Linked DNA regions of Homo sapiens. The protein of the gene in region 1 purifies or fractionates together with the protein of each later gene. This does not show direct contact. Each region holds a gene or a part of one and is shown in the gene's direction. Other genes may lie near its edges.

Region 1 (3,500 bases):
TTTGGTTTTTATAAATATAAATGTTTTATTTTTAAATGTAGGAAGATATTGATGCAGAATCTTCGTTTTCATTAAATATGAACTTTAGCAGTAAAAGAACAAAATTTAAAATTACTACATCAATGCAGAAAGACACACCACAAGTAAGTGCTTTTAATGTCAAGTTTTTTTTGAGGGGGAAACATTTAAGCATTGGACTTTACAAGTGTTTACATTGAGATTGTGCAAAACTTTGCACAGCAAAATTAATAATGGGATATGTCTTTTCTGGTTTGTTGTTGGCATTTATTAACCTTACAGTCAAACAGAAATCTCTACTTGTATTTTAGTTTTTTCTAAGGAAAAGGGTATGGTTTTGTTGTATTTGCTCTTAAACCATTAGAATGTGTAACTATGCATTCTCTCCGAAAATTCCCACATTGAGAAGTAATAAAATTTCATATTTTTCATTTGTAAAATAAGGGAAAGTTCTCCAGTTCATTTTTTTTTTTTTTTTTGAGACGGAGTCTTGCTCTCTCGCCCAGGCTGGAGTGCAGTGGTGTGATCTCGGCTCACTGCAAGCTCTGCCTCCCGGGTTCACGCCATTCTCCTGCCTCAGCCTCCTGAGTAGCTGGGACTACAGGCGCCCACCACTATGCCTGGCTAATTTTGTTTTTTGTACTTTTAGTATAGACGGGGTTTCACTGTGTTAGCCAGGGTGGTCTCGATCTCCTGACATCGTGATCCGCCCGCCTCAGCCTGCCAAAGTGCTGGGATTACAGGTGTGAACCACCGCGCCTGGCCTACAGCTCATTTCTTTCAAAGAAAATTTGTCAGTAGAAAATGCTTCTTAAACTTTCATATGCAAATGAGCCACCTGGGCATCTTGTTCAAATGCAGATTGTGATCTAGTGGGTGTGGAGTGAGGTACTGACAGGCCAGTGTGAGGAGGGGACTTCTGCTCTTCATTATTTTAACTCAGCAGTGATTGTTGCTTTGGTCTGGGATAGACTGTTTCTATCACTTATGCTTCCTGATTGCCTCCGGTGTGCAGTCCTTGGGCTGATGCAGGATGTGAAGATAATATAAGATGTTAGACCCTCTCCAGAAACTTAATTCCCGATGGGGGGAGACAAATATTAACTGCCATTTACTTTGAAACCTAAAATGGTCAAGATTCCATTTTCCTCCAGGCTAATAAATAATAATTTGCAATATATAGATTGTATTTTGTCTTTGAAACGCTGTGAGGAGATCCTCTTAATGTGGCATGGTCTGCTTCTATGCCTTGCTTCTGTGTTTCTTGAGCTCCGTGGAGATAGGCCCCCTCTCCTGGCTTCTCTGCTTGAGCCACATAAAATGCCACTTCACAGCTCTTCCCTTTGAAGCCTGATCCAGTATGCATTTGGAGCTAATTACTGCAGTTGACACAACTCCATCTAAAAGCGTCATGAAAGATTCTGTAATCACTGATAAGAAAATGATCTTGCAAATTATTGCTGTGTCCTCCTTTATTGCCTCTTTACCTTAACAGTACAGTTTACAATAATGTAAATTTTTTTCTAATCTTTCAACTTTAACCCTAGAAATTGTAGATGTTTTAGCAGTGGTTATGTGATATTGGCACAACATAACTATATAATTTGCTCAATATTGTGGTGCATACCTGTAATCCCAGCTGCTCAGGAGTCTGAGGCATGAGAATCACATGAACCCAGGAGATGGAGGTTGCGGTGAGCTGAGAGCGAGTCACTGAACTCCAGCCAGGACGACAGAGTGAAACCCTGTCTCAAAAAAAAAAAAAAAAAAGTATTTGCACTCACTGATAAAATGAATTGAAAACAAGTTCAGTGACTTAATGTCTTGTTGGGTCTTTTTTCTTTTCTTCTGTAAAACAGGAAATGGAGCAGACTAGAAGTGCAGTTGATGAGGACCGGAAAATGTATCTCCAAGCTGCTATAGTTCGTATCATGAAAGCACGAAAAGTGCTTCGGCACAATGCCCTTATTCAAGAGGTAAAAGGAGGGCAGTCCTCAGGGCTTCTTAGGGTAGAGGGCATTGTCATTGTACAGATTCAGTCTCTTTCTTCTTAAAGAGGATACAGAAATAACCTGATCCTCAGATAGCATAAAGAAATGTTTCATACTTAATCAGAATCGTACTCACTCACAATTTCAGTATTAAATTCAGATTTGCAGGCTGGGCACAGTGGCTCATGCCTGTAATCCTTTTTGTTGTTGTTGTTGAGACAGAGTCTTGCTCTGTCGCCCAGGCTGGAGTACAGTGGCGTGATCTTGGCTCACTGCAACCTCTGCCTCCCAGGTTCAAGTGAGTCTCCTGCCTCAGCCTCCCGAGTAGTTGGGAATACAGGCGTGCACCACCATACTTGGCTAATTTTTGTATTTTTCGTAGAGACAGGGTTTCACCATGTTGGCCAGGCTGGTCTCGAACTCCTGACCTCAGGTGATCCACCTGCCTCGGCCTCCAAAAGTGCTGGGGTTACAGGTGTGAGCCACCATGCCCAGTGGACACCTGTAATCTGAATGTCTTGTTAGGCCAAGACAGGAGGATCACTTGAGTCCAGGAGTTTCAGACCAGCCTGGGCAACACAGGGAGACCCCATCTCACCTAAAAAAAAAAAAAAAAAAAAATTAAAAAATTAAAAAATTAGCCAGTTGTGGCGGCACACTTGTAGTACCAACTACTTGGGAGGCTGAGGCGGGAGGATTGCTTGAGCCCAGGGATTGAGCCTGTGTGACACAGTGAGATGCTATCTCAAATGATAATAATAAATTCATATTTGCTTTGGCTTTATTTTAGAGGTCTAAAACTTGCTGATTCATTGAGTCTTCTGTCCAGTTATTGAAGGAAATTGACCCATCAGATATTCATTCATTCCATAACTATCTGAGCCTACCATGTGATAGACAGCTGGGCTGGTCCCTGGGATATAGCACAGAGCAGCTGAAGATATGGCAGGCTTTTTTGGAGTTCACAGTTTAATGGGGGAAGAAATACACTATTGAAATGATATGCAAATAAATGTAAAATTACATTAGCATGCACTGAAGGAAACGTATACAGTACTATGAGAATGTATTTAAATATCCTGGCCTAGGGGCTGCTGGGGAAAACTTTCTTGAGAAAGTGTTTGAACTAAGAGCTGAGAGTTGAGTTAAATAGAAGCTTGGGGTTGTGTGTGAGTACTTAGGTTAATTAGTTTATTGTTTCACTTAATTATGTATCATTATTAGATTTTGCTGTATCCATTTTCCACATTGTAGTTCCTATTTTCATACTTAATTTGGCCCATTTGTTGAAACCTCAGTACATTTGAGGCACTTTAAACTGATTGGTTAAAAGTCATTACTTAATAGCTGAAGAACTGGCAGTAGTTTGACTTCCACATCTCTTCCACAGGTGATTAGCCAGTCAAGAGCTAGGTTTAATCCCAGTATCAGCATGATTAAGAAGTGTATTGAAGTTCTGATAGACAAACAATACATAGAACGCAGCCAGGC
Region 2 (2,978 bases), on another chromosome or scaffold:
ATTTCTTCAGGCCTTATTCCTATAGATGATATTAACCTTTACTAAGGGTTCAAATAATAAGTAAATAAGATAGGTTTCTTACTCCAGAGAGTGAGGTGGCATTTTTCATCCTGGTTTAATCCATGGTGCTTTTCTCTACAGAAAGCTCTTGTTACTAGTTAACAGCTAGGACCTGAGCTTGCCACATCGGTTTCTAATTTACCAGAGACCCCCTGCCATCCTGAGTCCCTGCTGCTTCATCAGGCTTACTGTCAGGCAGCCATTGCCTGAGGGGAGCAGCCAAGCTGCTGAGTTGGGGTGCAGGCTTTCCCAGGGTGCCTGGCCATGCCCCTGAGGCAGCATTCTTACTGCTACCAACTGGAGTCAGAACTGAGGCAGATGACATTTGAGATGAGCCTGGAGAACTGAATAGCATTTATTTCAATTCTTTATGCCAGAGCGAGGTGGGAGAAGGGTGTTGCCTTCAGAGGGAACAAATTGTACAAAGCTGCAGAGCGCTCTCCAAAGCTGCTTTGCAAAAACACCAGCTCACCAGGGCGACTTTGAAGCTTTTCACGTGGGCAGGATTGGGCAGTTGCTAATGCTGGCACCACACGCTTGCATTTTGATGATCTCCTTCAAAGTCCCATTTATCCTCTGCCAGCCCATTGGTTAGAGGCGATTGCTGTGTTCTAGTGTTTGAGTTCACATGACTTCCAGAGTCAGCCCTTGAATCCTGACGGGAAAGCATCTCTGAGAGGGACCCAGGTCCTACCCGTCAGGTGAGCGCCCAGCAACCTGAGCATTGTGGGCGCGTGTCTGCCTTTGAGCCACGGCCGGTCAGGGAGGGGACGCAGGAGAGCTCTGTGTCCCCTGCCTGCCCACCCACTAAGTTCACAAAGCACTCACTGTCCCATCAGGTTGTGACAACCCCATGTGTTCAAGAAGCCATTTACTTTGAGAGACCTCTGTGGGCTGTGGATGAGGCTTTTGCTAAGTCCTTTTTACTCGTCAAACAGATGGGTTTGCTGGGCTGTTACACCCTGGGCACCAGGGTTCTAGCCACGAAAGAGACACTCTCTCTTCCCTCGCCATGTCTTACAAAATTGTGGGTCCAGACAAGTCAGCAGGCAGGGGCTGGACTGTGACAAGAGCCCTGGCAAAGCGTGGACGGCATTGTTTCTGGGAGCACTGCAGAGGGAGGTTTCTCCAGAGGGGGCAGCAGAGCAGAGGTCGGAAGGTGTGGAGTCAGCCAGGCCCAGGACTGCGCAAAAGTGCTCCTAGCGGCGAACCACAACCAGCAGTCGGGAGGCAGTGAGGACGTGGGGGTGCATCAGTGTGGCTGGGGAGCGTCGGGACCCTCTGCAGTATCCAGAGATGCCTCAGGGACGCCACCCTCCCCAGGAAGGCTGGATGCTGTGGTGCCAGCAGGCCCCTTTCTCTTCGCTCTGACCCTCCAGGAGTTGAACCTCCTCTTTCTAGTTCATAATTCATACTGCACATTTTCAGTGCGCAGTACATGTGGGTGGGCTTTTAGTTGTATTTTCACCTCCCATTGTGAAAGTGATGATTGCCTGTAGTAGGGAATTTGAAAAACACAGAAGACTAAACAGAAGGACAAAATCTTTCCTGGGGGGCCTGATTTTGATCACCCAAAGCAGGGCACTACGTGTTTGCTGCGTTTCTTCCAGTGAGAATGGGCCTTAGCAGGTGTTTCTCAGGCTTGAGTATCATTCACGCTCCCTTACTGGAGGCTTCACCTTTCTGCAGCCTAGCCCGGCTTTCTCATGCTCACAGCGGCAGCCGGCTGGTTTCCCTCTGCTCTCAAGGACCCAGCACGTGCCTCCCAGCTTCATCTCTCCCCGGCCCCGGCAGCGAGGGCAGCATCTTGGGTGCCCGTGCACTCGTGGGTGCAGACACGGCACTGGCGTGTCCTGAGTGCTGAGTTGTGGCTGTGCGGTGGTGTCCGTGGGACTCAGAACAGCCCTGCATGCATTTTCTTAGGATTGTCTTTTAAATGAAAGCTAGAAAGCACTCTAGCCAACACTCTCCCCTTGGACTACATGTACGAGCCCTGGTTGGCTGAAACTGAAAGTCTGTTACGGGAAAAGTCTTTTATTTCATTGGATCATTGACGATTATCTCTGTATTTTGGACTACTATATAATTCATTCTGAAGTGATTTCTTCAGCCCTTACCCTTGTAGGTGTAACTACGTGGTTTTGCTTATTTCCCTAGATTTTGAAGATCTTTTTGATGATGATGACATCCAGTGAGATGCCCTCTGGCTGCAGGCGGGGCCAAGCCCTTGGTACAGAGCCGCAGTGTGAGCCTGCGCAGGACAGTTTCAGGTGGTTTTAAAGAACACGTGGAAATCCCTTGAATTTAGGACCTGGTTAACCAGAAAGATAAGACTGTTCTTAACGACCTAGATGATTCTGTTCATCTCTGAACGGGATCAGGTTTTGTCCTCACTCCAATTAAAAGAAAGCAATGTCACATGTGGAGTGATCTCTTTCTTGCACTTATGAGTGAATGTTGCAGTCCCTAAACGTCTCTGTGTGTTTGTGTGTGCATGCATGTGCGTGCATCTGTCAGCACGCTGAGAGAACCACATTTGTCTGGTAGCAGATACCTTGTGTTAAGGTGCTGTATGTGCTGGAGCAGGAGGCAGCGCGGCCCGTGCACAGCTGGGCCTGCTGACAGCACTTGGAGGACCTTGCCACGGGGCCGCCCCTCTGCTGTGTGGGCAGGTTCCCACTGTGTGTGTCTGTCAGCACAGTCGTCCTTATGCTGTCCTCTGGCCTCCACGTCAGGGCAGCTGCCCCTAGGCTTAAGAACTAGGACGACAGGATGCGACTGCAGGAGACGCCTTCTACGTGGAAATGCACATTGGTCCATTTCAAAGGAGAGTGTAACGCCCATGTGGGAAGAGGGGTCTTGTTTCCTGTAGGCCCAGCTCAGTAGTCGATACTGGCTGTAAAGCAGTGAAGTTGCTG

The links. Proteins that work in one complex are often made in the same cells at the same time.
Region 2: the proteins of CUL2 (region 1) and COPS9 purify together in Homo sapiens (affinity purification with mass spectrometry; 2 studies listed by BioGRID and IntAct, with this or other methods). This does not show direct contact.

Annotation. Positions count from the first base shown.
Region 1 is NC_000010.11:35,010,342-35,013,841, reverse strand, and holds part of CUL2 (cullin-2), read left to right. Parts: intron 1-41; coding exon 42-143; intron 144-1,877; coding exon 1,878-1,994; intron 1,995-3,399; coding exon 3,400-3,500.
Region 2 is NC_000002.12:240,130,328-240,133,305, reverse strand, and holds the end of COPS9 (COP9 signalosome complex subunit 9), read left to right. Parts: intron 1-2,217; coding exon 2,218-2,255; 3' UTR 2,256-2,478; downstream 2,479-2,978.